2 separate regions of the Homo sapiens genome follow, and region 1 is linked to region 2. A link means that fine-mapping ties the variant in region 2 to the expression of a gene that starts in the linked region. Tissue or cell type: tibial artery. Region 2 holds a variant in brackets; the other region holds the start of a gene. All regions are shown on one strand. Distances are between the middles of the regions.

Evidence for each region. PIP is the estimated chance that this variant, and not a neighbour inherited with it, causes the effect.
Region 1: it holds the start of ANKRD50, and the variant in region 2 is fine-mapped to the expression of ANKRD50 in tibial artery (GTEx, PIP above 0.99). The same link has a PIP of 0.9 or more in coronary artery and subcutaneous fat.

What each region holds. Positions count from the first base shown.
Region 1 is chr4:124,710,442-124,715,830 of GRCh38, forward strand. It overlaps ANKRD50 (ankyrin repeat domain containing 50), which reads right to left and starts at 2,291. Exons shown (of 5, transcript NM_020337.3): 1 at 2,017-2,291; 2 at 1-833. The coding sequence starts at 70. RefSeq lists enhancers at 1,699-2,264, 2,265-2,830 and silencers at 1,778-2,017, 2,168-2,547.
Region 2 is chr4:124,792,897-124,798,285 of GRCh38, forward strand. No RefSeq gene overlaps it. Among named protein-coding and RNA genes, the nearest start is that of ANKRD50, 83 kb to the left of the region's middle. The variant G/C (reference allele first, on the strand shown) is at 2,990.

The sequences.
Region 1 (5,389 bases), 82 kb before region 2:
AAAACTGCTTCCCTTGCAGTAAACTGGTTTGAGCCATTTTGCAGACTTTCTCTTCCCAAGGATTAGTCATAACGGGTTTTTTATCTTCATTTGCTAGAGTCTGGATACATCAACACAGGTCTTTCCATCCATTATGACATAACTTGTATATTAAGTTGACTCTGAAGACAGAGTAACTAGTTACAGTAAAATTCAACAGCCACAGAGTTCCTCTGTCAACAGAACGTGCATGACTTTATTTGGTTCCTTATTCTTGATCAGCAGTCTATGTATTAGTTGTTGAACTGAGGGAGAAACGCCTGATTCCACAGCTCAGCAACACTTTTCCTAAATTTTAATGAGTCACATAACTCCATGGTTATAACTGGAGTTTATGTGATTGTGGATGTTTCAAGAACAGAGATGAGACAATACATGTGGAAAACTAAAGAAAAAACCCAATCTTTCAATTTGTACAAAATGCTTCTCCAGATTCCAAGTGTTAATTCTGCATCTGACAATTAGATTCTGAAAAGAGGTCCACTGCATTAAATGGCATCAGAGAGATTACATTTATACGGTATGAGGTACAGTATGTAAGTAGCTCTGTATTTCTCGTTGAAGGATGATCACTCAAGAGTACTAGATCGTGCCAGTTTCAGGCATCTGGGCAACTGCCAGGAACTGTTTCAGATTATAGTCTCTTATGTGGCAGAAATGACAACCACTGTTAACACCTTCTTAATTCAAAGCATTCATAATATGCATTTTTCAAGACAGCAGATTCTTAATGAACCTGTTCACAGGTTTCTTGGTTTTAAGACGTCCGGGTAATCAACAATTTCCACAAGTAACTAAAATAAAACAAACAAAAATACCTCAGTGCAAAATATCATATGTTAAAAACTTATTAAGGACAATAAAGGTTGCAGTGTACCAGTTAACGTAATCTCAAAAATCCACGTACTTCACCTTTGGCACTTTCAAAAAGTTGGACAAAAACCACTGAAATAATCACATTCTCCCTTCTGCATTTTTCTTCCTCATTGTTATGCTTCCCAAACAGCCACATTTTAATCAAGTTACCCAAGATTTTTGCAACTTCACCATAGCAAAGGAGGGGGGGAGAAACTTTACGCACATACAGTAACACCCTTAACTCCAGGCAAAACGCTCATTCACAGTAGACTGGTAGAACAGCGCCAGCTAAGGAAGCTCTATTAACTTACACAGTCCAGTCAGTCAAGGACTGTCTACTCCTCCAGCCACACTTCTTTGTTGATAATGTGCAAAAATCTAGGGGAAGATTACCAGGGTTGCAGCTGGATGGGAAACGGTTTAAAAAAAAAAAACAAAAACGATGGGGGATGACTGTTCTTATAAGAATGATAAAGCAAACACAAGTAAAATGTGAATCCTTCCTTCCTCTGGGCCAAGGATGGAGGTCAGGGATAAAATCTACCAGTCTGGCCGGAGAAAAGGCTGCTAGAGAGAAATTCCTTCCAAGACAGGAAAGGGATAAAGAGTAGAGTGCTTCGGTGCTGGTGGGTGTCTGCCCACAGGTCCGGCCTCCAGTTTCAGCTGACAGACAAAAGGAACTCCGGGATTCCCAGCGCCGGGCACCACCTTGGGTTGGAACCGCCCAGAGGAGCCACAGGGGAGCCACCTCAGAGAGGCCACGAGCGAAGGTGCAGCCTCCACACCGAGGTCTGCCCTTCCAGAGGCTGGGAGCGCCTCTGCACCCCGCCCCGCACCGAGATTGGGGTGTGTCTTTTGAAGGGGGAGGGGGTGACTGAGGTCCTTGCCAATCCCAGACGAGGGGTCGCCTCCCGGTCGGCTTCCGCCTCTGCGCTCCCGCCCCATGCCCCGCTCCCGCTCCCACCCGGCCGACGGCGGTGCGAGGGAAGAGGGCAAATCTGGGGCTCGAGGCCGGAGAGGGTGGGTGGTTGGGTCAGGTCCAAGCCACGGCCTCGGCCTCCCAGCTTCCAACCCGAGGGAGGGGCCTCGCTTCCACCGCCGCCGCCGCCCCCCGGTTACCTCGGCCCCAGCCGCCGCCGTGGCCGCCGCTGCCGCTGTTAGGGACTCTCAGTCTCAGACACTTGCTTCGCTGAGAAGTCGCTGCCAGCAGCGCTCCCAAGACTCCACTCCAACTGCAGCCGCCTCCTCCGCCGGGCCCGGGGCACGCTCCCAGCTCCGGATCCTCCTCTTGGCCCCCGGCGGCTGCCAGTTCCAGCTTTCCCAGCAGAATCGGTCGTGCTCGCCCCAGCCCCCACCGGCCAACCGCCGCCGCCGCCGCCGTCAGGGCAGTAACTGTCTCAGGCAGCCCCCGGCCGGCCGGCTCCGCCCCGCCCGCCCAGCCCAGACCCCGCCCCCGCCCCCGCCCCCGCCCCGCCGCTCGGCCTTTCTTTGCCCGCCGGCTCCGCCTCCGCGTCCTTCCCCTCCCCCACCGCGCTCTCCCGCAGCATCCCGTGCCTGGGCGTGTGCGGCCGCCTGGGACCCGCTGCCGGCGCGGCGGGGAGACCTGTCTCGGGGCGGCGTGGGGGCCCCGCCTTTCTCAGGGGAGGCGGAGAACGGGGCGGGGGCTGCGTTCTCACGTCTCCGAGCTCACGCGAGTCGTTGCCCCCACCCTCCCCGTCACCACTGGGCCCTGATCCTTCCTTTGTCTTCCAGGCCGGAGGGACTCGCCGGCTGTTGGTGCCGTATCTGCTCCTGGGAGGGGCAGTTGGGTAGGGGGAGATTGCCTCTTGCCTCTCTCTGCTCAACCCTTTTGCCTCTCCCTTAACCCCGTTGCTTCCAAAGCCACTTCGGGCCCCGTTCTACCCCTCAGTCGTCCGGTCTCCTTTCAGTCCATTAAATTCCAGGGATGCTTTTACTTTGGCTGGGACGAAGAGAAGGAAGGAAAAGACTGGGAAGAATGTTGCGAAAATAGAAATAGTGGGGGTATACAGCGACATTCCTACCAGCCTCATGAAAAGGACGTGGCCTCCATCAGATGGAGGTTGACAGCAGGCTTGACTGGGTCTCAGGCCCCTGCTCCTCAGGGCCACTTGATCACCCGCAGCGTCCACTAGGGGGGAAGGTCTTGGTCATGTGGCGTCAGGAAATGCCCTAGAGGGCCTGCTCACAGGGGCCTGTTGGACTAAGCATGTCAGTTGTTTGCACTTACTGGACCTGAGTTGCTTAGATTCCAAATTTCTCCCGGGAAAATAAGTATACCGTCAACTGATGGAATAGGAAATGTAGCATTTTTTATTTTAATTGTTTATGCTAAAATCCAGAGTGCTCTATTTCCCATTCCTCATTAACTTGCATGTGGTTATTTGCCAAAATATTAAGCCAGTCTCCCATCTAGTTTTAGAAATTTCATAGTATAGCTATCACAATAAGAAAGATGGATAAACAAATAGATCGTGTTTGTGCTTACTCTTTCATATTGTTTATTCGTGCCAATTGAGGTTTACTGATCTTAGTATTTAATTTTAATTCATGTACCCTGAATTTTGGGCTTCTTTCCTAAAACACAAGCAAAAGAGGCAGAGTATAAATTCTCCAGAATTAGGGGGATGAAAATTGATTTTTAAAAAGCTACAATTTTTATTTATTTTTGCCTAAGCTGTTTTAATTCCCACTTAGCTTGTTTGCCACGCAGCTTTATAGTCATTGAACAGGTTGACTCCTTCAGTTTCATGGTTGTAAAATTTTATGTTTAGAGGAAAATTTAAATGAGAAATAATGTATATCACATTATCATTTCTATTAAGCCGTTTGCTAACACAATAATTAAAATAATTTCTGCCCAGTAGAGAAGTTACCGAAACTTTTTGTTTAGTGGGCCTCATTTATGATAACTAAGCAGTATCATGGAATGCTGTTTTAAATAACATCAGCTGTAACTAAGCTGTAATTAATCTTCAGACCTATTTAGAATTTTGTTTTTTGCTTTAAAATTTATTTCACATTTTATTTTTATTGCTTTTTGCTTTTTTTAATAGAAAACCCTTAACAGTGACGTATATGTATATATACACACATATATAATTTTATGAAACTTCTTTTTATCAATTACCTAAATGTTAAACGTGGCATAAGCAGAATACTTACTCTTGGTACATATTCACATACTTTAATCAGTTTCTTAGTTGTATTTTCTCCAATACCAGATACTCGCATTTTTCCAAAGAATGCAATTTTTTTCAATGTGGCCTTTCTTATTTTTAATTTGTTCATAAAATTTCCTGAAATCATCACAGTTTCACATAAATTTGAAATTACTGACAGCTTTAACGAATGCTTCTCTGAAGACTATAATGTTTTAAATGGAAAATTAAGTGGTGAGATACGTATTAAGCTCAAAACACACTCTGCTAAATAAAATATATTCTCCATTCTAATTTCTCTATATTGAAATGTACAAATTTTTCAGTTCAAATCTTTTCCTAGCTGTTGTATTTTTTTAAACCTCACTCAGTTATATTGTGCAACAAGTGTTTTTACAAAACAAAGCTCATTATATAAGTCTTGAAAATGTACGTTTATTTTGATGGTATCAATCAAGTTTAAATACTACAAAATTATGTCATCTCAATTTTAATCCATTTAGATACAAAATATAGTTTCATCCAATTAAAAGCAACAGCTCCATCAAAAGATTCCACAAGTTGAGATATTCCAAAGCACAATTCTAAGTTTCAAAAATTACGTCTTTTATAATGTCTGTGTTTTCATCATCGAGTACATTCAGTTCCTTGTTTGGTAGAGGTAAATTTGAATTTCTTTATATTTGCAAGTTCTGTAATAATTATAGCAATACCTGAAAGCTACAAAATTTGAAATCTATGACTTTAGAGTTCTAATGATTTTACATGAAAGGCTGTGAAAATTTAGAGGACTCATTTTAGTCCTCTAAATTAACTTGTGTAAGTCACTCAGGTTTATTTACAAAGTGATGTTTTATGCTTGGCAGTCTTTCAGGTTATGCCACAAATTTAAAGAACTCTGCATTATACAAAAAGAGTTCAGCCTACTTGCTATACTCTACTACAGGATAAGTCAGTCTCTATTTCACATATTTCAGATATACCTCACATGTAATTTTCTCCATTTACTACTGATTCTCAGAAGTGGCTTCTTGCACGTGGAAGGCAGCTGCAGCAAGCCAGGGCACACTGAACTGCTATGCCACGTGTCTAGCAGGATCAGCAGCCTTGAGAGTTTCTCTGGTTACTACCAAGCCCAGGATTTGGTATATATTATATGTATATGTATATGTATATGTATATGTATATGTATATGTATATGTATATGTATATGTATATGTATGTATATGTGTATGTGTGTATATGTATATGTTTATGTATCAACCACCCATATCAAGCTATATTTTATTTTTTCAACTAGCAGTCTGCATACT
Region 2 (5,389 bases):
CTTTATTAGTCTAGCTAGCAGTCTATTTTATTAACTTTTTCAAAAAACCAGCTCCTGGATTCATTGAGTTTTTTTAAAAAACTTTGGTTTTTCATGTCTCTATCTCCTTCAGTTCTACTCTGATCTTGATTATTTCTTGTCTTTTGCTAGCTTTGGGATTTGTTTGCTCTTGGTTCTCTAGTTCTTTTAGTTGTGATATTAGGATGTTAATTTGAGATCTTTCTAGCTTTTTGACGTGGGCATTTAGTGCTATAAATTTCCCTCTTAGTACTGTTTTAGCTGTGTCCCAGAGATTCTGGGTTTCCTTGTTCTCATTGGTTTCAAAGAACTTCTTGATTTCTGTCTTAATTTTATTATTTTCCCAGGAGTCATTCAGGAGCAGGTTGTTCAATTTCCATGTAGTTTTGTGATTTTGAGTGAGTTTGTTCATCTTGAGATCTAATTTGATTGTGCTGTGGACTGAGAGACTTTTATGATTTAAGTTCTTTTGCATTTGCTGAAGACTGTTTTACTTCCAATTATGTGATTGATTTTAGAGTAAGTATCATGTGGAGCCGAGAAGAATGTATACTCTGTTGTTTTTGCATAGAGACTTCTCTACATAGCTAGCAGGTCACTTGATCCAGTGCTGAGTTTAGGTCCTGAATATTTTTGTTAATTTTCTGTCTTGACTATCTGTCTCATATTGACAGTGGGGTGTTTAAGTCTCCCACTATTATTGTGTGGAAGTAGCAAAATAAACCATCATCAAAGTGAACAGAAACCTAGAGAATGGGAGAAAAGTTTTGCAATGTATCCATCTGACAAAGGTCTAATATCCAGAATCTACAAGAAACTTAAATAAATTGACAAGAAAAAAACAACCCCATTAAAAAGTAGGCCAAATACATGAACACACACTTCTCAAAAGAAGACATTTATGTGGCCAACAAACATACAAAAAAAAAGCTCAACATCACTGATCATTAGAGAAAAGCCAATCAAAACCACAATGAGATACCATCTCACATGAGTCAGAATGGTGATCATTAAAAAGTCAAGAAACAACACATGCTGGTGAAGCTGTGAAGAAATAGGAACACTTTTACATTGGTGGTGGTTATATAAATTAGTTCAACCACTATGGAAGGCATTGTGGTGATTCCTCAAAGACCTAGAACCAGAAATGTCATTTGACCCAGCAATCTCATTACTGGGTATATACCCAAAGGAATATATTACTCTAAAGATACACGCACACATATGTTCATTGCAGCACTATTCACAACAGCAAAGATAAGGAATCAGCCCAAATTCCCATCAATGGAAGACTGAATAAAGAAAATATGGTACATATACACCATGGAATTCTATGCAGCCATAAAAAGGAATGAGATTATATCCTATGCAAGGACATGGATGGAGCTGGAAGCCGTTATTCTCAGCAAACTAACACAGGAACAGAAACTCAAACAGCACATTTTCTCACTTATATGTGGGATCTGATCAATAAGAACACATGGACACAGGGAGGGGAACAACACACACTGGGACCTGTCATGTTGTCTGGGCGGCAAGGTAGGGAGAACATTAGGGAAAAGAGCTAATGCATGCTGCGATTAAGTACCTAGGTGATGGGTCAATAGGTGCAGCAAACCACCATGGCACATATTTACCTGCGTAACAAATCTGCACATCCTGTACATGTATTCCAGAACTTAAAAAAGAAATATGGTGCTTTTTAATGTGCTACCTTTTTTAAAGGAGAAATATTATTTGACTTGTTTGTCTTTTATACTTTAGTCTCATTTTCCGTTATATGGTACAGAAATGATAGGTGGTCCCTTCATTTTAAGGGAGTGATACAGAATGTTCCTCATGCCACTGAGTGATTAAAGCTCCAAAAGCATAATTGCCTTCATGAGAGCCTAATCTCTAGGTGAATCAGTTATGGCCCATTGTAAAAGATGCTTTTTTCCTCTCTGATAAAAGAACACAAAAGGAAGCCATCTGTGTTTTGATTTTCCCAGTACATTTATTACTCGGTCAGCTTTGGTCACCCTTATTAAGTGTAGTGATTTGCTAGCCGTTGACACAATCTTCTTTTTACATTGTGGGTGCTGCACCCTCTTCTATATCTAAAATTGTATCAATATGAAAATACAAATGTGTTCCCTCCTTGGAAATTATTGAATAATAATAATAGAGTTACATAAGTCTGTCCAGATCTTCACTGAATTATGTCAAAACAATGTCTGTGGTATTTTTTTCAAAGCACAACTTATGAAATATTTCATAAAAAGCAAACCAAACTGTTTCCAAAAAACTCACTATTTCCCAAGCCCTATTCTATAATAAATATATTGTAAAGGCATTCAGATGAAGAGGAAATGCTTTTCTCGAAAGCGTCCTTCAGCAAATGGGAAAAAGAAATATTTCTTTTTTTGTGTGTATATATGATCTTTTCTAGCATATTCACAGTATTCTAGATACAATTGGTATTTCTATTATTCCCTCTGTCTCCTCAATTTAAAATAATTATCTAGAAAGCAGTATTCTCTTTTCATAAAATTGTCATTTATTTCAAACTCATTCTGAGTTGTTGGTAAGTTCAGATCTTTTCAAGAAATATTTATTAAATGCCTTTATTTTTGTACCAGGTATTACTTTCAAGGTATTCAGGATGCATTACAAAGATGTGATCTCTGTCCTTACTATCTAAAAAGCATTTAATTAAATATTTAAAAGTTATTATTCTGAACATCTTGCAAATCAAGCTCTCGAAATATTTGACTTATTTGCTGTAGTTTTGTAATTTTCAAATAGGAGTGAAGGAGCTTTTAAAAATTGATAATTGACTAATTTTTAAAGTAGAGATTTAGCAGAAATAAAACTATCCTTGTGTTTAAATCCCATTTCAAGCAATTTAGCAATGACTCAACCGTCCCAAGCAAAGGCTAAATATTTCTCCTTGACAGTTAAGGATTTTTAACTGGAATATCCAAATTTA[G/C]AAAGAAAAATAGTGCCAAATAGCACAGTTCTGAACACTGAGCAGATGCTCCATAAATAATTGTTGAAGCTGACTGCAAATAATTCCCTCTTAAGTTTATAAGAAGACTTTTCCCCAATATGGTCCCAACAACTGTGTTTTACCTCTTCTATCATCTGCCTTACTTGGCTACAACCATTACTATCATACAAGCATATACTTAAAATTAGGGGGTTTTCAAAGACTGAAGACACTCCCAATAAAAGCCCAAATGTAAGACTGAGGCATGAATTATTTACATCTTCCAATTAGTATATTTATAACACATCCTTAGATGTGTCTATATTAACTATGATTTATGAAATAAATTTCATATCATTAGATTTGTTCTTTTGTAAAAGTAAATACATTTAACATGATTTCATATGGTTAAAAAAAGACATACCAATATAGTCAATAAATGAAGTGAATTTATATTCCATTTTAGCTCAATTTTATTAAATTAGATACTTTGCATTTAACAAAATTAGTATGACTAATATTTTCATCAAATTTGTTTCTACTTTTTTTGCTAAATTATTTCCATAAATTTCTTATAAAAAATCTCACTCATGAAATGTGTAGGATTTCATTGTAACACCATTAAAAATTTTCAAAAAAAGAATACTGTGAAGAAAATTTCAAATAAGAATTCTCAGTTATTTGTAAATGTCAATGTCATTGGAATATGTGCTGAGTGTCCTGAAGTCATAAATGAAGGTAGGCTGTGTGGGGTCCTGTGCGTGTGTATTGAGTTTTATTTACCTTGAGTTTTATTGTTTATGGATAAATAAAAGAAAGCTTTAAAAAAAAACCCTTTGATTTCCAACCTGAAATTTGGATGATGGGAAATACTAATATTATTTTTTAAAAGTAAACCATTTAAACAACTCTTTCTTTATGAAATGGTAACTAATGTTTATCGTGTGTCAGTTATGTCAATGATCCTATTGTAGTGTTTGTTTTACAAATACTTTTAATAATTACAACAGGTAATTTTATCTCCATTTTACCACTCTGGTCTCAAAGTTGTATGTGTCCTCACATATTGTATGAGCAGCTAAAAGTAGTAACTGATGGAGCCATGACTGAAACTTGGGTCTTTTTGTATCTATGACCCTTTTGTTTTTTGAGGTATCCCGTGTAGTCTCTTGAAATGTAAATATATTAACAATCAACAAACATATACTTTTAATAGATCCTGGAGTCTCATCATGTGATTATATGAGCAAGTTTTTCTGAGAAGAGTAGAGTAGTGAGGACGTGAAGCAATAGGATAAGCAATACATCCTAGAATAGTCTTGTATCTATATATGATGACAATTTGTCAGCATAGCTGGAAGAAATAGAGGGCCAACAGTTAATTATATTTTGAAATTTTAACTAAAATTCTTGTTTGTCCAAAGCCAAGTTTCTTGTTGGTCCGAGTATGTAGACTTATGCTAACTTGCCTATCTTTTGTATTTAGTTTCCTTTCAAGAAAGATAATTATAAGAATAACATACCACTGAGATCATTTCCACACACATACCATCTGGGAAAATTTGTATATCAGCCTGTTTATTGCAAATGATATACCATATGTAAAAAAAACTGCTTTGAAATATACTGGGTGATTTAGCATTCACTTGGTAAAACATGATTACAGTTCATATATCATACATATATAATTCCGACTTCTATTTCTGTCAGTTTTAATCAACGATGATTTCTTCTTACTGATTGGAATTGTGTCATCTAAAACTAAAAAAGAAATTCACATTCAAAAATTCCTTTTTTCCTACATGAACTAGAATAAATATTTTAAATGTTCAGTAAAGAAGTAGGTTTTAAAATTTCTAAACTGTTTGCTAAAATTAGTCATACTTTCCAGTTTTAAATGAGGTCTGAGTTCATGTTATTTTGCCATTACATTTGAAAATATTTTTCTTAGAGTCCATCCTATTTTTCCTACAAGGAAGCACTCTCCTATTTTTCTCCCTGTTTTGCTGGAATCATTTTAAACCCCACCCCTTTAGGAACTCTCTACCCAACTTAATTAATTCCCTTTTTTACTTTTCTAATTTCTCTAGTGCTTTGCTTGAACTATACTATCAAATTATTAGAAACTATTTCTTAGTATCCTGAATAGAGAAGTAAAACATTGAAATAACTTCACCTAATTAAAATAGCTTCTTAAAGGAAGATCTTTAGGATCAAGTGGGCTAGAAGGGAACTTTGTGGGCTAAGATGTGTATTGTTAGCCTTTTGAGGACTTACTTAGTGTTCAGACTTCTTAAAATGCTGTCTATCCAGGAGATGGTCTTTAAACCAGAAAAAGATAAAAAGGTACATTGAAAGCGGGGAGACCAATGAGAAATTACTTAATGGGTACAATGTATA